Homo sapiens: one gene and its partners. The protein of the gene in region 2 purifies or fractionates together with the protein of the main gene of each other region. This does not show direct contact. Each region holds a gene or a part of one and is shown on either strand. Other genes may lie near its edges.

Region 1 (7,690 bases), on a different chromosome or scaffold from region 2:
AGAATAAGTTTTTTAAAGGCACTTAATCATGTAATTTACTAATTTAAATATTCAACTCTACCTGTAATTTAAATGTTGGGTTTCCATCCTAAAACCTTTTCTCCTCCCTTCTGTATGATTTTGCCTCCAAAATCTACTGCTATCAACCCAGAACCTGATACTGAGCTTCAGCCACAAATCCAAATGCCTAATGGTCATCTACATCTGACAGAACTACAGTCACCTAAACTGAACATGTCACAAATTAACCCCTCTATCCTTCCTCCTTGACAAAATAAAAACAAAATCCCACTCCTTCATGGGAATCCCCACCTCAGTGAAAGGCACAAGCCAGAAACCTAGATTTTATCCTGTATGCAACTTCTCCCCAACCCCAAATACAATAAAATCACCAACTCAACTCCGAATATCCAAGTTCAGATCCAGTCTCACCATTTGCCTGGATAACCCTAATATTCCTGGCCTTTAGTCTTATTCTACTCTTCAATTCACTGCAGCCAGAATGACTTTTTTAAAATGCAAATCTGATCATTCCAGTCCCCTGCTTTAAAATCCTTCAATAATTTAATAAATATTATAATCATCATCACAGCTAGTCACACTGTGGAAGCTCAGAGGTTCAATGAGAAATTTAGTTACATCCTTTCTGTAGGTTCAACATAAAAGAATCATCAGGAATTTTTTTCAACTCACAAAATTATTTAAACATACATATAACATCAGACACATTTAAAAGAAAAGCATGTAACATTGTTGGTAAAAGCAAAACACCAAAAATAACCTCCAGTCCACAAAAATGGAATACTATCCAGCCAGTAAATGAGGCACTTCCATATGTATTGTTAAGAAATGACCTCTAGGATGTAGTATTAAGTAAAAAAAACAGGCTATGTATAGAATGTAAAGTATGCAACCATTTGTGTACAGTGTCTTAAAAATATAAATGTGTAGGTTTATATATTGGAAATATCACAGAAAGGATACACATGAAGCTGGAAATAGTGGTTGCCTCTAAAGAGGAAAAATGGGTGGCTGGAGAGTGAAGGCGGAACAGAAATTTTTACTACATTACTCTTCCGAAACTTTTGGCTTTTACGTCTAGTTATTATCTATAATTTTAATGTGATTTTCTCCTGTTACTTTAACATTTTTTACTGTGTGTGTGTGTATGACTACAAAGACCTCTTTATATTTCATCTTTATACCAATATTAAAATTACGTACTGATCATTTGATGCAACATTACATTTCTTTCTTGACAACTCAGGAGCTCAACTTCTACAAACATTTTATTCAACATTTTACTGCTATTGAGAAGGCTGTTGTTGGTAATGACCTCAGTGAACACTGCATGATTTCTGTACTTGCTTCTTGGAGAAGCAAGACAGCAGCACCAGGCAACAGAAGTTTATTATTAAACCGACATCGAAGCATTCAGGGATTAAGGAATGCTACAAATCTTATTTTTCTAGCAAATCCAAAAAACAGTGAATCCAAAAAAAGTCCCCTAGTATCCTTTAAAAATAAAAATAAGAAACAGTTCTAGTATCTGCAGCAATCGACAAGGAGGTGAAGTAATACTACAAGACGACATAGTTATATCCACTAGTGCAACGTGATTTAATCCTTACAGAGGTCCCTAAAACATCAGTGCTGGACAACCTCACACGTTCTACACAGAACAGACAAGACGAGGTGCAGGCTCTGTGACCTTATAATGGCACACACACAACTGGCCTCATGCTTCCATAACTTCACTCTGCCTCCCACTTTTTTCAGCCCAACCCCTCCAAACATGGGTCTCGGTCGGTCCCCTTAAGCCACAATGGAGGGAATACATTAGGCTAAGCAAATATTCCCTCAGGATTTCATGGCAAAGCCCTTTCAACCAAAGAAAGGATCGCGACTAAGGAGAAAGATAACAAGGTTTGCTTGAGGAGAGGTCTGTTGAGAGAGGCTACAGTCGGTGGTGGGAGAGAAGCCAAAGTCTGTGACGGTGTCTAGAGGGACTGACACCACATCTACCGGGAGTAAGAACACCATGACAGCGGCTATCTGAAAGCCGTGATGGCTAGGGTTAGTGCTAGTCGGCTTGGTGATGAGCGAGCTGGGAGGGGTTCTACTAAGAAGAGTAGGGCGAGGGGCACATGGGGGACGCAATGGGTTAGGGGGCGGTCGAGACTTTGCCTGAGAACTGTAATCACGTCAGCCCAAGGGAGGATGTAACGTAGTCTAGAAGCTCCATTAAGAGTCCTAAGGGACTCTGAGGGGTACTAATGGGGTCTGCTGGGTTGGGGGGACCGTGACAGAATCTCCGGGGAGGCTGGAGGGCCGGAATGGTGCCCGGCCAATGGAAGATACAGGGGGTGGGGTCTACTGGGGATCCGGGGCCGTGATCTGGTGTTTGGGAGGCTCGGCGCAGACCCGCTCGCGGGGCGTCTCCGCTGGGACGGGGCGGGGCGGCCCGACCGGAGCCAAATAGCGAGGCTGAGACGTGGGCCAGGACGGGCTGCAGGGCCGCTGGGCGCTTGGGCGGGTCTTACCTCGGGCTCCGCCGCGGTGGCCACCGCAGCCCCCTCCTCTTCGACGGAAGCTGCCTTCCACCCTCCGCCCCAGGGTAGGACCGGAGATGGCAGAAGAGGCCGAGGCCACCGAGGGTCGGACGGTTCCGGGAGGGTGGGCCCAGCAGCCTCAGGGTCCGGGCGAGCGGCCGCGGCGCATCCCCCGCCCTGTCAGAGAGACTCCGCCCGGCCTGAGCAGGCACATCCCCCGCCGCACCCCGCCCAGAGAGCACGCGTTGGACCGCCGCCTCAACCGCTGCCAGCGGCCGCCTCTGCCGGTGCAACTACTGCCTCCGCCGCCGCCTCTCGCAGTCCGGGCTGTCCTGTACTCTCTCAACAGACACAGCCAACCGCCGCCGCGTCCCTTATCCGCTTCGGTCGCGCGCCCCCGACCCCGCGCACGCGGCCCCGCCCCGCGCGACTCCCCGGCTGCAGGCGAGCAGGCGCGCGCGCACTTACCTCCCACGCCCCCTACTGCCAGCACGGGTCGGCCCCGCCCTGTCCCGCCCCCGCACGTGACGCCACTGGAGAGTACAGCGTGCGCTTGCGCAGACACGCCCCCTTTCCTACGCCCCAGGCGGCCCCGCCCAAATTTTTTCTTCTTCACCTTACGGCAGAGCAGGGAACTCAGCTTTAGATTCTCCCTGTACTGGAAAGGGATGTCGCAAGGTTGGGGACGAAACCTCTGAGTTTGCGACCGTAGCTGTCGCTTTCCGGCCAACACAGAGGTGCCTGAAGGCTGGTTGGGGTGGTGAGGCCCGAGGCAGGTAAGAAGCCTCCTCCCCACTTCGGTTTGTCTCGGCAGTGGATCGCTCTCCCACCCACTCAGATTCTGGCGTATCCGTGCTCCCTCCCGATTCTGGACCTGGATTCTCAGCGCCGCCGGTCATAGCCCCCGCCCCTTTTCAAACACGCACGCTCTCTCCACCCACTGCCCCCTCCATTGTCCCCGCCCCGACCTCCGTTTCCATTCATTTCTCAGACTTTTCACTGAGTGGTTTCCATGCCTTGGGTTCCAGAATGTCAGAGGCGAATTAAGTGGTGTCAGCTTTTTGAAGTGCTTTTGTATAGGAGACCGTGAGAGAATCCGCAGTGGTAGTACAATAAAGTGACAATAGAGAAAAATGCACGGGATGCTGTCTGCGCACAGAAGAGGGGTCCCAGGTTGTGTAGGAGGATAACGTGAGGAAGCCCTTTCCAGGGTGACTTTTGGGTCACTTTTAGAGGACTGTGTTAAAAGACTAGTAATCCAGTACCTGGTCAAAGAAATACGAAAGGAGGTAAAAGCAGAATAACGGGCGCAAGAGCATGTGACAGTGGTGGTCTGAAAGAGAAAAAAGAAGTAAAATAAACCTGATGGAAACCGTACTAGTGTAGACTTCCCTTTAAAGAAGCATCGTTATAAAGTTAGAGAAATGAGGAACGAGAATATGGCCCTCAGGAATGTTTTCTGTTTAGGTAGAAGACTCAAAAGCGTACCATGAAACCGAGAAGTGGCCTCTTCGAGGGTGAGGGAGGCTAATTTATAAGATCAAGATCACTAGTGGAACGCAACCTTGTATGTGCATTTGAATCACCTGGGAAACTTTTTGTTAAATAAAACCAATACTGTTGCCCCACTCTAGACCAATTAAATTCTGGGTTGTGCCAGGTGTCATTACTGTTTTAAAGCTCCACAGGTGACTCTAATGCTAAAGATTGAGACTCACTAAACTAGAGAGAAGGAAGTTGAGACAGTTGGCTCTGTAACATTAAGATGGAGGTCATTTAGCCGGGCGCGGTGGCTCACGCCTGTAATCCCAGCACTTTGGGAGGCCGAGGCGGGTGGATCACGAGGTCAAGAGATCGAGACCATCCAGGCCAACATGGTGAAACCTCGTCTCTACTAAATATACAAAAAATTAGCCGGGCGTGGTAGCAGGCGCCTGTAGTCCCAGCTACTCGGGAGGCCAAGGCAGGAGAATGGCATGAACCCGGAAGGCGGAGCTTGCAGTGAGCCAAGATCGCGCCACTGCACTCCAGCCTGGGTGACAGAGCGAGACTCCGTCCCCGCCCCCAGAAAAAAAAGATGGAGGTCATTTAACTACAGAGAGGCTTGGAGATGGAATGAGAAACTTGAGCGGCGTTATGTTTGGAATAACTGGTCTGGGAAATGGGAGAAGGAGCCACTCTTGCCTTTCTCTTCAGCACTGTTCATTCCTCAGTGTTTATCAGGTCCAAATTAGTTACTTGTCTCTTTGCTCTCCCGTTCCCTTCCGTCCAGGATTGGTCAGCTGTTGTCTCCAGCCTTAAAGCTCAAAGGCCATCCCCACTTCTGTCCCCAAAATGATCAGAGCTAAGCCAATTTATGAGATGCAGAGACCAACATCCAGAGCTAAGCCAATTTATGAGATGCAAAGACCAACATCCACTCTCATAGAGATTACTACATACAGTGCCTTGCCAATTTAGAATCTTTTTCTATTATTTATCATTTAAGTTAGTAATGAGATATAAAGATATTTAAAATACAGCTCAATTAGGATGGAAAATTACCGTATTAGGGAAAGCAGGCCTTTAAACAAAGAATTCACTTGGCAGGCAGAGAAGCTGTATGAGGTAAAGACCAAGACAGTGTATGGCTGCTATCTATTAACTAGGGTTAATCCAAAAACCTGTCTATCAGACCCAGATAAGAACGAGTTATTGTTGTCTAGTATGGCTAGAGCATAGTATGGAGAGTAGAGGTGGGACAGAGATGAAGATGATAAAGTGGGTGTGAACAGATTATGAGGAGCCTTGAATTCCATGGTGAAGAGTTTAGATTATATTACTAGAAGTAATTAATAAGTACAAAAAAGGTTCTTAACCTCTTTTACCCAGTGGACCTTGTTGGCAGTCCACCTTATAGATTCAGTCTCAGAAAAATGTTCTTAAATATATAAAATAGAATACGTAGTAATATAAAGGAAACTAATTTTGTTAAGTTTTTAAAATATTAAAACAAATGTGTGATATATATGCACTTTATGCATTAAATAAAATCTGGCAGCAGGTCTAATTATATAATTTCTAAGTAGTGATGACTATAAATTATATTTTGAAATGCCTGCAGCAACTTTAATGTGATGTGAAAATATCAGATTTCTATTGGTAAAAAAGAGAGTGCTAATATTGTAGTTTGTGGTCCACACTTATTGAAGAAATGCTAAATTTCAGCTACTGATTATTGAAAACAAAGATGCAATTGTTTTCCCAGTCTAAGTTCACAGAACCCTGATATTCTAGCCACATCCTGGTCTATGGATCCTAAGTTTTAAAATATCTCAGTATAATGGTTTTAAGCAAGAGCATGACATCAAATCTGTGTTTCAGAAAAATGATGAAGCAGTGTTCACTTCCCAACCTCTCTGCTGGGATGAGAGGCTGGCTCTGGGGCAGCAACCAGTACTATCCCACTGTTTCCTAATAACCAGGGCCTGCAGAGGGACTGAGCTTGTGGGTGTATATGTCTGTGAGAGTAATACCAGAAAATAAATCAGGAAAGGTAGATTGGGGCTATTTTTGTGGAAATCATTGAATGCCAGGCTGTAATTTGTAGTTACTTTGGTAGACAATGGAGGGTTGTTAAAATTTTTTGGAGTAGAATAATGTGATTAGAGTTCTGTTTGAAAATCTAGAATAATGTGCAGGTTAGATTATCAAAAGAGAAGATAGGAATGAAGAGACTAGAACAATAAGTTAATTAATTTTTGAAAAATGGAATCTTGGGCCAGGTGCAGTGGCTCAGGCCTGTAATCCCAGCACTTGGGGAGGCTGAGGCAGGAGGATCACTTGAGCCCAGGAGTTCAAGACCAGCCTGGGCAACAAAGTGAGACCGTGTCTCTCCAAAAAAAAAAAAAGAAAATTAGCCAGACATAGTGGTGCCTGCCTGTGGTCCCATCTACACGGGAGACTGAAGCAGGAGGATTACATGAGCCCAGGAGGTCGAGGCTGCAGTGTTCATGCCACTGCACTCCAGCCTGAGTGACAGAGAGCCTGTCTCCAAAAAAAATCTTGAGGTGATCTCTAGAGTCTGCTAAATTCCTTTATTTCCACAATGTGCTGACCAGTCTAGAGTAACATACATTGGAATAAATGGCATACCTGTCAACAGGAATATATACCCCAGTGTGGGAGTCAGTTAACTTTATGTGGTCAAGAGGCTAGCCCAGTCTTTTGTATTATAAATGATATTGTTAGTACTTCTAATAAAGCAATGGCCTTACCATAAGTTCACAGATCTTGCCAAGGCCTTCCTCAGTCAAACTCCATCTATACCTGTGAGTCCTACATTTCTGACTTTTAAAAGTCAGAACCTGTCTATACCTGTGAGTCCTACATTTCTGTCTTTTAAAAGTCAGAACTCCTCTCTTTTTGCCAATTCCTTAAACTTCTTGGATGGGAAAGAAGTTTAGTTTAAACACATTAGCAAAAGAATGGGAGGTCCTCAAGGCCCAGGCAACCCATCTCCTTTGAAACTGATCAATACCGGACTATAAAAACTTACTGCTCAAATCCAGCTAGTACCCAAAGTATGTACTGTCTATATACCTGTCTATACCTGTGAGTCCTACATTTCTGACTTTTAAAAGTCAGAACTCCTCTCTTTTTGCCAATTCCTTAAACTTCTTGGATGGGAAAGAAGTTTAGTTTAAACACATTAGCAAAAGAATGTGAAGTCCTCAAGGCCCAGGCAACCCATCTCCTTTGAAACTGATCAATACCGGACTATAGAAACTTACTGCTCAAATCCAGCTAGTACCCAAAGTATGTACTTTTTAAATGTATTCTAAAAAATTGAATTTGGGGTTTAGGTATTACTGATCCAAATGAGTCCTATAAAATTAACTTCCAGAACTAGGTTCTCAGAGAGGCCACCATTACCACCTTCTTCAACATAACTAGCCTATATTGACTTTCTGTCCATCAAATAATTGGAGGCCATTTGGGTGGTGATAGGAAGAATTAAGTTTATGCAGAACTTGAGGTTCAGCTATCTGACACCTTTTGCGGGAGGAGGAGGAGTGGGTCTATCTGAAATCAGAAATAATACTTTTATGAGGCTTTTTAATAATTTTTATTACTTACAGAAAATTTCTGAAAGTTCC
Region 2 (7,572 bases):
CCACCCAGTAAGAGGGTATAAGTTAATAAGGGGGAAGAAAACTTGTGGGGCAAGTCCCCAGTGAGGAGAATTTTTAAAAAGTCTTTTGATCTGGTGCTTTTTCAAGGTATACTAACACTTCTTAAGGAATTCATTGGAAGAACAGGGACTCTTCCCCCTCTGGCAACAAAATTGCATGAATCTTCCCTGAAACGAATAGGTCAAAACTGTAGGGAACTTCTTGTTCTATCCAACTTCTGGTATTTACATCGTTTAAGTTCTATTTTCCTTTTCTTTTCATACCTTCTCTAAGATCAGATTTTAAAACCTAGAAGCTTCTGTGAAATAAAGGTTTGTTAGTTTTGAGTGTGATTAGTATGTGTGTGTGTTTGAGAAAGAGAAAGAAATCTGAGAGGTTGATTCTCACATGCCAGAAATCTCATTGCTATAAACTCATATCTATTTTTGACTATGTGAACCTAGATATTCTATCCAGAATCAGAGTTTTCAAAAATGGAATAAAAATAAGAACAACGGTAATATCCAGGGCCCTGAAAACAATAAAGAATGCCATTTTTAACTGATTTCTTCACTTCACAATTGACACTCCTGTACACATAGCTCCACTCTGGGCATTTTCTCAGCTTGCTAAGTTTCTCTTGCCTGCATAATGTAATATACAAGAAAACATGAAGGCAGCTCTCTTTCTTTGTGGTTACAAACAGAAATAAATGTTCCCCCAAAAGCCAACAGACCCAAGGCCAACTTCTCTCTTGGATGACATGCTTAGATACAGAGTTAGTCATGTGCTATCAGGTCACTGAGTCAGTGACAAAGCACTAAGATTGAGGGAGAACATCTTACAATCAGGTTGCCATCATGCACAGAAAAAGAATCGGTAAGTATGGTGCTCTGTATAGGGGAGGGATGGGCTGCACATCTTAAAAGCCATCTCTAAGCTCCTGGAAGCCAGAGCTTACAACTCTGCTTTATCTGTCTAGCACCATGGGCATACTGGGCTTGATGCTCTCCAAAAATGATGACAAATGGAGAATATACTTTCAATAGCACTGGACATTCTTTCTGTCTAGAACTTCCAGGGATGTTTATAGAAGATGCCACCTTTACCCCCAGATGTGTGTGTGTCTTTTTATTTCTTTCAGAGCTTGAACTCTTTTACTCCCCCCATCACATTTCTCTAGCAGTCTTTTGATTTGATTAAATATTACAGAAATGTTAGCATCCAAGAATAATAATTTTAAATTAATACACCTTGCAACATTGTCCTAAAGCATTTCCACATACATTTTCTCGCATGGATATTACAATGTGATAATGCAACACTTTGTATGAGTGGCTAAGGATAAAAGGCCTACAGGTAGAAAATGAAAGCAAAAATGCAAAAGTTTTGGCACTGGGGGAAAAAAATGCCTCTACTCTCTATTCACACACAAAAGGCAGAATGAGATTCCACCTGCTGACTTTCCCTTCCTGCCCGCACAGCACTAGTGCTTATGTCAGAACAAGCTGGGAGAGAGGGAGAGACGACAATTTCACCTCTTGGCAAAGCTCAGCTTGCTGAACCCTTTTGCTTTCTGCTGGCTGTTGATTCAGCAGAAACTACTGCTGCAGAATTCATAATGGTGATTTTTAAAGGCCCCACCGATCGCGTTGCTCACCCCACGTGTCAGCCTCATTCGCTGCCCGCCAGAGCACTATTTCCCCAGCCACCTTTTTATTTTTGCTAATGCACTTCCAAAAGGAAAGAGGTTCGCCCGTCTGCAAAGGGCTTTTTGGGGTTTTGATTGTCTAAGCAGGTAACCTGGCCGGCCGGGGAGATGAATGGGCAGGAAATGAAACCTTGCCCTCCCTGCAGCCACTGAGAGACATAACATCGTTTCGCTCAGGGAGGGGGGACCAAGGTCCTACTGGGCCCCTCCCTTCTTATCTCCCCCCAAGACCCCTGCGAACATCTCGGGGAAGGGGTCATCTGCCTTCCTGGGGTCATCTTTCTGGGCGAGAGCCCCACCCTGAAAAAGCCTAATCCCTGAGGGCCATTTTAACTCCCGTGGGCGCCGGGTCCACCTGCTGCTGAACGCCGAGCTCGCCTCGCGGAGCCCGGATGGATGCGAGGTGCACTGGGGCTGCCGGGGCCAGCCGAGCCCCCGCCCCAGCCCTAGGGCCCGGAGGAGTCTCCGCCACTACGCGCCCAGCTGCCCAGGAAGCACAGTGATCCGCAACTTGCGCCCGGCCCCAACGGCGGAATGCGGCGGGGCTGGCGTTACCTTCGGTCGCATAGCTGTGGTCGCGCAGGAAACTGTTGTTGATTTTGCGGGTATCAATGTCCTCCTCCATTGACAGCAGGCTTACTTGCGTGGGAACCAGAAGCCGGCAGACAAGTATCCATGATCCCTCCCCGCAGCCAGTCTCACAGGAGAGGGGGGCAGGGGAGCCAGTGGGACTGCACCATGGTCCGAGCCTGAGGAGGAGACGGGGAGGCGGAGAGAAAAAAAATAAAAACCCGGCAATGGAGCTGTCACCTCCTCCACTCGGGTTCTGCGAGGCTGCGGCGGCTCCTCCCGCGCGGTGCGCTCACTCCAGCTCCAGTTCCCAGCGAGGATGCTGCGCCTGCCTCCGCTGCCTCCGGGTGCCAAGATACGCCGTGCCCCGAGGGGTCTGGTCCCGCCCGCCCGCCCCGGAGGCGCTCACAAGCGGGTCTGGGGAGATGCCCAACAGGTTCCCCTCCTTGGCAGCCGCTCCAAAATGCAAAAAAGATCCCTCCTCCCCCTGGGAGAGCGGGCAGCCGCGACAAAATGGTGCCTTTCTGGACCCGAGCTGCAGTGGCGAGATGGCAGGGACAGGATTCAGGCTTGCCTGGCCGGAATGAGGGTGCTGGTCCCACGGGAGGGCGGCTCCGGCAGGCGGGGGTAGGGAAGCTGGCGGGGAGCTGGGCAGGGCGCTGCAGCCGGCGCCAGCGCACTCACCCTCACACCCACACGCGCGCACTCGCAGCTGCTGCTGCTGCTGCTGCTGCTGCTGCTGCAGGAGGCTGGAGGCGGCTGGTGCATTAAAGGCGAGGCTCCTCCCAACCGCGTCAGCAGCCCCACGACTCTTTCCCAGCAGCAGTGGTGGCCGAGGCAGAGGCTGCGGCTGCTCTTTGCTGCAGTGGGGCGCATGCAGCCGCGAATCGGCACCTGGGCAGCAAGCGACTAGCTTGCAGGTTCAGGTGGAACGCATAGACGCGCTCTTCCAACCTCCTCCCCTCTCGCGCCACTCAGCTAAGGGCCACGTCTACGCTAGCACCCAGAGCCCCTAGCTCCCTGCCTTTCTCCGGACGCCTGAACTTGAGAACAGCAAAGAGAAGTAGGTTCCTTTGGATAGTCAGGAAGTCTACATCCAGGTCCCTTTTCCTCACCCTTATATGATGCATGTGGTCCCTTGGTGAATTTAAAGGGCGAGGTTTGGGGCTCGAAGCTTCAGAAAAAGAGGAGAAAGTGGGAAGTGCCGCTCAGAGCCTATCTTAAGCCCTCTAGTAGGAATAGGAGGGGGATCAGGGGCCAGAACTTTGCAACTGGTTCCCCCATTCCTAAGAGTCAAAATACCTTCTAACTGTAGGAGGCTGGTGTTCAATAAAGCATCTGTGTCTACACAGGTGGAGGAAAGCACCAGACTAGTAAACAGGATCAGTCTGAAAAAGTCCACTCTCCCTTGCAGTTTGCACTTCGTTTTGGACAAATTATTGCAGCCTCTCCGTTAGGTTTTGCTTGTGCAGGAACACCTTCTATTTGCTGTCAGCATGGAAGGTACATTGAAGCACAGAAACATAAGCATAAGAGCCCTGTGCCCACAGAGAGCCACTGCTACCCTGGGGGAATTTCAGGAGTCCAATTAATACAGAAAAGAGACCTGTCTTCCTACTTCAACTAGGAAGAAAATGTAGAATTCCCTCCCCACCCATGTTTTCCCAAATTTCAAACTCTACTTTTGAAAGAAAATGAGATTACTATTGTTATGAAACAACCAAAAACATTTAATGAAGCAACCCAAATCACTAGAAAGCCAATTTGGAAAAGACATCAACCCCAATCAGTAGAAAGCCAATTGGAAACGACATTTCCTAGGTTTCATCTTGTAGAAGGTATTCATTTCAATGGGTACCACTGTAGGGAGAGACATCAGCAAATGTTTTGCTCAGTTAAGCTCCACAAGTTTAGCTAGATGGGCCCAGAGGGACCTATGAGTTAATTATATACATACAATGCTTCGGCTAACACAATTTAGAAAGTATTTGAAGTTCAGAAAAATGGAAAAACAAGTCCTTAACTGAGGTTGGGAATTGTCATTAGATTTCCATGCAGTATGGATACTTCTGGTAGATAGAAAATGACATCTTCCTCATCTCCAGAAATTGACTGCATATCCCTGGGAGAAAAGAGCAGAAATGTTCCTTGACATAGTTATTTTGTGTGTGTGTGTGTGTGTGTGTGTGTGTGTGTGTGTGTGTGTGTGGTGGGGGGAGTTCAGTTCAACTTTCAATAGATTCTATTTTATTTTCATCTAGTGCTTAAGACTTATACACTTGTTTGTTCAAAATCCACATTTAAAATTTTAGTAACAGGTGAAGACGGGTACAAGTTGATTTAATCCACTTCAGTACAAGTTGTCGTGGCTGGTTCTTCCATGGGATGAGCTGTATCTATCACCGAGGTTCCAACATTCAGTCCTTTTGTAGTTACACATTGCAGCTTCTCTTGGATATTGGCACAATTTGGAGTAGGAGCAGAGTGGGGAAAAGCTAAGTTCATCTCTTAGTGAATCAAAATGATGAGAAGACATTGTGCCTTCGGTTGGAATGATCTTAAAATTGTTTCAGGAGGCCTTGGAATAGTATTTGGGAAAATTTCCCCTGTATCTTTCTGAATCAAGGGCTAGATTGGGACAGAGCTGTGTGATGAATCAGGTAGGCCCAGGCTCATTGGCCAGGCTGTGCTTGAGGAATTTTCCATTGTAACCAATGGGGAGAATGTCCCTTCCACAGATCGAGTCTCTGGGTTTATTTATTTTTCTTTTCACATATGCTGCAAACTTTCTCCTGCATTTATTCAACAGTCCAGGCATTTTTCCTAAGACACATGTTCTGAGAAGGCAGATTGGATAGGTCTCCATTGTTTAAGTAGATTTCAAGGTTTCCATTTGGCCAACTACTCTTTTCTAATATGAGAGAACTAGCTCATCCACCCAAAACCAAGGGGAAAAAAGCTGTTGGCTCTGTGCCATAACACAACGACCTGTGGTGGAGGTAAGGGAGTGAAAAGAGCCCTGTGCACCACTGTGGAGCTGGGGGGCGGGGTGGGGGAGAGAGTGGGGGAGATGGGAGTAGGCTGCAGAGATCAGTCTTCAAAAGACTCACTGGCCACTTCTCTTTTCCTCTAAAATGTCAAGTTCTTTCCAAAAGTGGTGGGCATTTCCGCATGCTATGTTCTTTGCCACTTCCTCATGTCTTGGCATTCAGCCTCTTAACTGTCCCTGCTTCGTTGAGGCATTCCCTGACCACACGATAGTCCTGACTTCCGGTGTTTTCTGCCTCCACATTTTTTTTTTGTCTTTTTCATGTCCTACAGCGTTTTATAATATTTGTTTACTTATTATTGTTGGCCATTTTCACTAGATCTTTTATTTTTATTTTCTTTTTTTATTTTATTTATTTTATTTTTCTGAGCCAGAGTCTCTCTGTCACCCAGGCTGGATTGCAGTGACACGATCAAGGCTCACTGCAACCTCTGCCTCCCAGGTTCAAGTGAGTCTCATGCGTCAGACTCCTGAGTAGCTGGGACTAAGACATGGACCACCACACCCAGCTAATTTTTGTATTTTTCAGTAGAGATGGGGTTTTGCCATGTTGGCCAGGCTGGTCTCAAACTCCTGACCTCAGTGATCTACCTGACTGGGCCTTCCAAAGTGCTGGGATTACTGGCGTGAGCCACCATGCCTGGCCTCACTAGATCTTTTCTATTGACTAACTGTCACTTAGTAGATGCTTAATTATATTTGTTGGAGACAAACATTTCTTAAACAAATGAATAAATTGCTGAATATCTTACTTTAATATTTAGGTTTCATACCTCCCCCCTTCTTAAAATTCATATTAAAATAATCTGTTGTGAGCTGGAAATTTTCTAGCTCATAAGCTGTATTCCTATTGAAATAATTGGTTCGATTTATTCCTGTATGCATATATACGATCAAAATTTACCAAGCAATTATGTAAAGAATTATTCTGGCCAGGTGTGGTGGCTCACACCTGTAATCCCAGCACTTTGGGAGGCTGAGTCAGGCAGATTATGAGGTCAGGAGATCGAGGCCATCCTGGCTAACATGGTGAAACCCTGTCTCTACTAAAAATACAAAAAATTACCCAGGCATGGTGGCACGCGCCTGTAGTCCCAGCTACTCGGGAGGCTGAGGCAGGAGAATTGCTTGAACCCGGGAGGCAGAGGTTGCATCGCACCACTGCACTCCAGCCTGGGAGACAGAGCAAGACTCCTTCTCAAGAAAAAAAAAAAAAAAGAATTGCTCTAGGTGCCAAGGATATAGATTTATATAAAACAGAATTTCTTTCTTCATAGAACTTAAATTCTATCATCTAATTTTAATAACGTGAACTTTCTTAGCAATACAGCAAATGCATTCTATATCGACAGACTATAGTGCAATGTTAAGTGCCAAGGCTCCGATATCATTTTCTGTCACTTATTTTTCTGTCCTCAAGCAAGTTACAAGATCTCCCTAAAGCATCATTTTCTTATCTATAAATTAGGAAAATGAATAGTATTTGTTTCATAGAGTTATTACAAGGATTAAATGAGATAATACGTGGAAAAAATACATTGCTATTACTATGAGTATTTACTTTCGTCATCATCACCATCATCAATGTTCAGCAAATGTGCAAGTACTTAACTATGTCAGACACTGGGATAGGATTATAGATTCAGCAACATCAGTGTATAAGATGTAGTCAGTCTCTGATGTCATGGAACTTAGTGTCTAATTTACAGTTTATGTAAAAGGGGCCATAGTCTTCAAAGGGGGCAGCAGAGGGAACTCTGAAAGACTGACCTATTTCAGGCTTGTGCTTTACATAGAAAAGGCCAATTACAAATACACAGCCTTCTTATGTTACCCAGTTCAGTATTGACAGCATGTGGATACATTCGTTTTTTTAACCACCCTTGTCATGGTCCCCTCCCCCAACACTCACATACCCACTCTTCCTTCCTTAGGCTAATGCTTCCTACACAGGAAACTTTTGGGTCACCCTGTCCAATTAGCACATTAAATATCTATAATTTTATTAAAACCTTTGACCTAAGCCAGTCTGGAGATTCTTAATAGAGGCTTTAGGTGTCAGACAGTCCTGGTTTGTGTCCCAGCTCAGGCATTTATAAATTTCATGACCTTTGGTGAGTAGTTTAACATCTCTGAACCTCTATATTTGCAAAATGGAAGAAAACAATAGTTGCTACTTCACAGGGTTGTTGGGTGGCTTCAGAGGTAAGGAAAGTGCTTAGTCCAGGTTTGGCTCAGAGCCAG
Region 3 (7,024 bases), on a different chromosome or scaffold from region 2:
TGTTGCTTAGTTTTTTCCTGTGTAGAGGTCACACTTCCTTGTTCTTTCCATGTCTTATAATCTGTGGTTGAAAAATTGGACATTATAGATAACATATTGCAGTAGCTCTGGAATTCATGTCCTTGGGGACTGATCTTGTCTTTTTGGTGGTTTATTATTTTTGTTTAGTGACTTAGCTGAACTAACTGTAAAGTCTACTTCCCCCATAGTGTGCAGCCCCTGTGGCCCTGCTCGGATGTTTTTACTTTTTTTTTTTTTTTTTGAGTTTCACTTTTGTTGCCCAGGCTGGACTGCAATGGCGTGATCGCCGCCGCCTCCCAGGTTCAAGCGATTCTCCTGCCTCAGCCTCCTGAGTAGCTGGGATTACAGGCATGCGCCACCACACCCAACTAATTTTGTATTTTTAATAGAGACTGGGTTTCTCCATGTTGGTCAGGCTGGTCTTGAACTCCCGACCTCAGGTGATCCGCCCACCTCGGCTTCCCAAAGTGCTGGGATTACAGGCATGAGCCACCGTGCCTGACCGTTTTTACTTCTTTTAATCTTTCACAGCCTGGCTACTGAGGGGCTGTCTCTGGGTAGGCATAAGCCACTTACTGATCAAAGATTGTACTTAAGCCCCCTTGGCCAGTTAGATCTTAAAGCTCACCCTAATGGCCACCGGAAATGTTATGTGACTTGCAGATTGCTATCAAAGCTGAAGGAGTTTATATTTTGGCTTCCCATTCAGCCAGGGACTAATAGTTGGATCTTCATACTGCACTCAGTCCAGAGAGGGTATAACCTTGGGCATGCACATATTCTGCCAGACTGTCAGGGATGAGTGTGATTTTATTTTAAAGCCTGACTACCTAGGAGGTGCTCCTGGATCAGAGTAACTGAATGTCGTTCAGTCAATGATGAGAGGTTGTGTTTAAGCCTCACATACTAGTGATGGTTACACCATTTGTTGATCAATCTACTTATCCATTTCCTGGGGCTGCCGTAACAAATTACCGAACTGTATAGCTTATACAACGGGGATTTATCCTCTCACAGTTCTGGAGGCTACAAGTCTGAAAGCAAGATGCTGGGAGGACCACGCTCTCTCTGAAGGCTCTAGGAAAAATCCTTCCTAGCCTCTCCCTAGCTTCTGATGGCTCTGGCAATCCTTAGCTGGTAGATGCATCACTTGAATCTCTGGCTTCACACAGCATTCTCCCCTGTGTGTGTTTCTTTTCCTCTTACTAAAATCCCATTCGAATTGGATTTAGGCCCACCCTAATCCAGTACAATCTCATCTTTAATAATTATATCTGTAAAGATCCTATTTCCAAATAACATCACATTTTGAGGTTCTGGGTGGACATGAATTTTTTTGGGGGGACATTATTCAACTCAGTACAATCTATGTGTGGCTTGAAAATATTATATGAATACCCCACATCCTACTCTTGACTGCTCCTGAGTGGGTATGGCTAGTGCATGTGCACAGCCTTCTTGTCCCCCAGGGCTGACTGTGATCCCAGAAGGGCTCTTCTTGGCTTTTTCCCTGGTGCTATTTGTTGAACAACATGTTGCTCTGCTCTTTTGTATGTTGCTCCTAGTATCATGGGAGCTATTACAGCCCTCTTAATTGGTCTCCACCATGACATCTACTGCTTTCCACAAAGCACTCAGATTTGGAATTCTCCATCACCTAAGTAAGATAAGTCCTCTGAGGCAGAGCTGAGGAACTTCTGTGACCTGCCTTTCCTCCTGAGCAGAACTTCTGTGCCAGTGCAGGCTCAGTGATACCACCTGGTTTATAAGCAGGTGCTGGGGTAACAGCATTGGGAAACCCAGCATTCTCATCTGCCATGCATGCCTGGAGCAGAGCTTCTGCCCCAGGAGCTGGGGCAGGGAAGGGGGCCTCAGCCTGCTTGACTGTGTCTACCAGGAGTAGAGCTTTTGTAACTCCAGACTAGGAGAGGTGAGATATGCTGGCATCTGATCTCTGGGAGTGAACCCACAGCCCCAGCCCTGGGAGCTGATGAAGAGGGGGAATCCCTTAGCCTCCTGACTATACCAACCCAGCGTAGAGCGCCTGTAGTCGTTTCTGTGAGAGGGATCTGGGAGGAGTTGGAGGGGGCAAGTCATAGCTCAAATGCCACAGACTACGGCTATTATTACTGAGATTTAGTAGGTTTTCTTGAATTAACTGTTTCTCCACCTGCTGTATGCCCTTAGGACAATTTCCAAAAGCTTTGAAAAATTATTTTTTAAAAATAATGTTCTCCAGCTAATGGTTATTTTTGCTGGAGAGGGGCTTTGCTATACTCCTCATCCAATTTCAGAAACAGAAATCTTCTATTTTTAACATTTAAAATTTTCCTTCTGAAAGTATATACAATTAAAATTTACAGTTACTCACAAGGAATATTTTAAAGTGTCATCTAATTCCATGATAGCAGCCTGGTTCCCACAACGATAACAGTAATTGGGTGCACTGAAAATGGTAACCACATTCCGATCATGACACCAATTGTATCCCTGCAGGATAAAAACAAATTCATTATTTCATTATAATATTATGATTTTGACACAGACACATTTAAAAAAAACTAAACTCAAAAACTACAGGTACTCTCTGTGGAAATGTAGTCGTCTATATTACTATATAAGGTCTCCATCTTTAATAGTTTGTGTACCTGTAAAGAATACTGTGCAATTCGTGGGCCTAGGAGTCTGTTAAATGCAGCTCGCTAATTGTTGTTTTGCCGTATCTATGCTTGAAATCTTGGCAAGGATGTGTACTGAATTTCTCCCACAATCATAATTAATTTCTCAATTTTCCCTCATGAATTATGCCAATTTTTTCTTTATATATTTTGAAGCTATTACTAGGTAAATACAAATTTAGAATACTTTCTTCCTAGAGAACTGGGCCAGTTTTCATCAATAATCTCTTTATTTCTAATAATACCTTTTATTAGAGCCTATCTCATTCATATTATTAGCTATAGTATTATATATAGTGTGTATACATACATGCTAATTAATGTATGTGTATATACATATGTATATATACGTGTATATATGTATATATGTGTGTGCATATATGTATACATGTGTATATACATGTGTATATACATACACGTATATATGTATGTATACATGTATGTGTGCGCATATATGTATACGTGTGTATATGTGTATATATACGTGTGCATATATGTATACACACATACATGTGTGTATATATGTATACATATATATACATACATTAGTGTATGTATGTGTGTATATACACACACACACACATCCTGTGTTGCCCAGGCTGGAGTGCAGTGGTGCGATCTAGACTCACTGCAACCTCCAACTCCTGGGTTCAAGCAATTCTCCTGCCTCAGCCCCGAGTAGTTGGGACTACAGGTGCGTGCCACCACACCAGGTTAATTTTTTGTATTTTAGTAGAGACAGGATCTCACCATGTTGCCCAGGCTGGTCTCGAACTCCTGAGCTCCAGCAATCCGCTTGCCTCAGCCTCCCAAAGTGCTGGGAATAGAGGCACGAGCCACCACGCCAGCTCATTAGCTATATTTTTGATATTTTGATTAATTACTTGATATACCAATATACCATTTTCCAACTCTTACCTCTAGTTTGTGGTGTCTTTTTCTTTTTCCTCGTTTTTTTGAGACAAGGTCTCACCCTTTTGCCCAGGCTGGAGTGCAGCGGTACGATCATAGCTCACTGCAGCCTCAACCTCCTGGCCTCAAGTGACCCTCTCACCTCAGCCTCCTGAGTAGCTGGGACAATAGACATATGCCACCATGCCCAGCTAACTTTTTGACTTTTTTTTTTTTTTTATATAGAGATGAGGTCTCACTATGTTGCCCAGGCTGGTCTGAAACTCCAAGACTCAAGAGATCCTCCCACCTCGGCCTCCCAAAGTGCTGGGATTATAGGCATGAGCCACTTTGTCCAGCCAATCATTTATGTTTTAGGTACATCCCAAATAACAGCTAAATTTTGATTATTTATCCAATCTAAGAGTCTCTTTCAGGCTAAAATTTTAGTCTCTTTCTTATAATCACTGATATAATTAAATTTATTTTTACTATGTAAATTTGTGTTTTTTTTATCATGCTCCCTTGTTTCTACTGGGCTGGCGAAGTTTTCTCTAAACATCTTGAAGCCACTCCCTACTGGTCTGCAGGGATTATGTTGTTTATGTTCCCTTAGTAGTTGTATAACAGTTAATATTATAGTGGAGAAATCTGGCAGACATCATCTTAACTAAGCAATTAAAGTTGCCACCACCAGCATTGAGACAAGCAGATTTTAGGACCACTTGATACAATGCACGGAGGAGGACACACCATCTTTCTATGTCATGACTGCCAAAAATGCATACATTGAATCCCTAACTGCAAGGAAAACATCAGGCAAACCCCAACTGAGGGATATTTCTGTAAGATAAAATGCTCCTACTCTTCCAAAATGTCAAGAATGTGGAAAACAATGAAAATCGGAGGATTTCCACATCAAAGTAGAATGAATACAACCTAATCTTTGGATTCGACTATGCACATACAGTATGCACAAAAAATTAAATTTTGCTATTAAAGACATTAGTGAGACAATTAGCAAAATTTGAATAAAGTGTTCATATTAAATAACAGTACTATATGAACACAAATTTCCCAACTGTGATAACTATACGGTGGTTATGTGACAGTGTGTCCTTAATTTTACAAAATACACATAGAAAGTTGGTAGTAAAGGAGTATCTGTCTGCAACAGATATTCAAATGGTTCAGAAGAAAGTGTGAGGGGTGAAGAGGAAGAGAGACACAAAATGATAAAGCAAATATAGTAAAATATTTACAGTCAGGAATCTGAATGAAGCATACAGGGAATTATGGGGTACTATTTTTGTAACTTTTTTCTAAGTCTCAATTTCAAAAATGAGTTATAATTCTGCTCTGGTCTACTAGTGCTTTCCCTACTTGCTAAAACCAGCAAGTTTTTCCTCTTTTCACCTAGGTAATAAATGGTGAGGAATGTTTCTTAGTTAAGTCATAATGCCTTATTACAGAAGTATATACTAATCTGAAATAAAGATCATTCTGTCAGGAAAGTACATACCTCCATTACAAGCTGGTGGGCACGAGAAACCAGTGTGAGACCATTGGCATGGTTAAAGGTTTCAGAAATGTCTTGTCCAAATGTGTAGCCAGCACCACGTGGTGAAATACCCCATCCACCACGATCATCTGGATCTGACCATAACAGATCACACATTGGGCCCTGGCCAAGAAAAATAAGTACATGTTACAAATTATTATCAGTCATACTTTATCATCCTCAAAATGTGGTTATATTTTCTTTTCCTTTCTTCTTCTTTTTTAAATTAAGTTTACCTCATGTGGAACTTCCTGTAAACGATCCAGGGCTCTTATATGATCCAGTGTGTCTATGGATGGAGAGAGGCCACCATGGAGGCAGAATATCTATGTATGAATTAACAAAAGAGAATGTATTTGTTTTACTAACTCCAAACAGTTAACAAAGAGTAAATAATGGTTAAAAGTGTCAGTCCAAATAGTGCCAACATTTAAACATATTTTGTCCATCATTTTTTCTTCTTTACCCCTTCTCTGGTCAATGGTATCCCCATCCTTGGGGACCCACCATTAAATTTCTTTTTTTTTTTTTCCCCTCCCTCCCTCCCTTCCTTTTCTCTGGTCAATGGTATCCCCATCCTTGGTACCTACCATTAAATTTCTTTCTTTCTTTTTTTTCTCCCTCCCCACTTCCCTCCTTTCTTTTCTTTCTGTAGAGATGGAGTCTTGCTGTGCTGCTGAGGATGGAGAGCAGTAGCTATTCACAGCCTTGATCACTGCGCAATGCAGCCATGAACTCCTGGGCCCAAGCAATCCTCCTGCCTCAGCCTCCTGGGAAGCTAGGATTACAGGTGCATGCCACTGTACCCAGCTGTCATTACAGCTTCTGTTGGTTATTGCTGATATATACAATTTTTTGTTTCTCTTACAGCAAACACTCTGATTCCTGTTACTGGCTACAATAAATTTTCAGTTCCTTCATATTTTCTAAGTACATAATCAAGTCATTTGCAAAACTATTTTTGTTTTTTCTTCTCAATGTTTATACGTTTTAATTCTTTTTATTGCTTAGTGCATTGGCCAGGACTTCTAAAATAAAATGGAATAATACAAATGTTTTCTGTTTTGTTTTTTGTAAACTACCTAGTTTCAAGTCCATGCTCTAGGTATTCTGAATCAGAGAGAATAACGTAAGTTTTAACAAGCATTTTCTTTCTGATTTTGATTTTTTTTTTTTTTTTTTTTGAGACGGAGTTTCGCTCTTGTTGCCCAGTGCAATGGCGTGATCTCGGCTCACCGCAACCTCCGCCTTCCGGGTTCAAGCAATTCTCCTGCCTGAGCCTCCTGAGTAGCTGGGTTTACAGACATGTGCCACCATGCCTGGCTAATTTTGTATTTTTAGTAGAGACAGGGTTTCTCCATGTTGGCCAGGCTGGTCTTGAACTCCCAACCTCAGGTGATCCGCCCGCCTTGGCCTCCCAAAGTGCTGGGATTACAGGCATGAGCCACCTCACCTGGCCTGATGAGAAGGTTTCTAATGTTTAGCTGATAGTACAACTGGCGTTTCTTTATCCACTTAATATTATTATTTTATAAAATAACTGAGTTTTGAATCATAAATATAGGAATTTTTTTTCCAAATGACTTTGGTCTGATTTTATTTTTCTGTGCGTGCCACGTCTGGTTTGGCATTGAGGTTATACTAGGCATACGGTGTGAGTTTTGAACTCTCCATCTTTTCCCAAGTTCTAGAACACAGAAATTATATGTTCCTTAAAGGTTTGGTAGAATTAGCCTATAAAACTATTTACACCTGGTTGCTATTGGTTGTTTACTTATATTGGACGAATTTCTGCAAGCCAATTTTAATAACTGGTATTTTACTATAGTAAGCTTCATTCAGCTTTTCAAACTTAGTGCACTAAAGCTGCACC

Evidence for each region.
Region 1: the proteins of PPP2R2B (region 2) and MYO9A purify together in Homo sapiens (affinity purification with mass spectrometry; 4 studies listed by BioGRID and IntAct, with this or other methods). This does not show direct contact.
Region 3: the proteins of PPP2R2B (region 2) and PPP2CB purify together in Homo sapiens (affinity purification with mass spectrometry; 5 studies listed by BioGRID and IntAct, with this or other methods). This does not show direct contact.

The regions. Positions count from the first base shown.
Region 1 is NC_000015.10:72,115,137-72,122,826, forward strand, and holds the start of MYO9A (unconventional myosin-IXa), read right to left. Parts: upstream 3,015-7,690; 5' UTR 2,544-3,014; intron 2,077-2,543; exon of another isoform or gene 2,057-2,076; intron 2,031-2,056; exon of another isoform or gene 1,715-2,030; intron 1-1,714. UniProt on the Homo sapiens protein: Myosins are actin-based motor molecules with ATPase activity. Unconventional myosins serve in intracellular movements. Regulates Rho by stimulating it's GTPase activity in neurons.
Region 2 is NC_000005.10:146,875,738-146,883,309, forward strand, and holds the start of PPP2R2B (serine/threonine-protein phosphatase 2A 55 kDa regulatory subunit B beta isoform), read right to left. Parts: upstream 3,021-7,572; 5' UTR 2,854-3,020; exon of another isoform or gene 2,459-2,853; coding exon of another isoform or gene 2,335-2,458; coding exon 2,265-2,334; intron 1-2,264. UniProt on the Homo sapiens protein: The B regulatory subunit might modulate substrate selectivity and catalytic activity, and might also direct the localization of the catalytic enzyme to a particular subcellular compartment.
Region 3 is NC_000008.11:30,788,805-30,795,828, forward strand, and holds part of PPP2CB (serine/threonine-protein phosphatase 2A catalytic subunit beta isoform), read right to left. Parts: intron 5,478-7,024; coding exon 5,388-5,477; intron 5,275-5,387; coding exon 5,113-5,274; intron 2,512-5,112; coding exon 2,393-2,511; intron 1-2,392.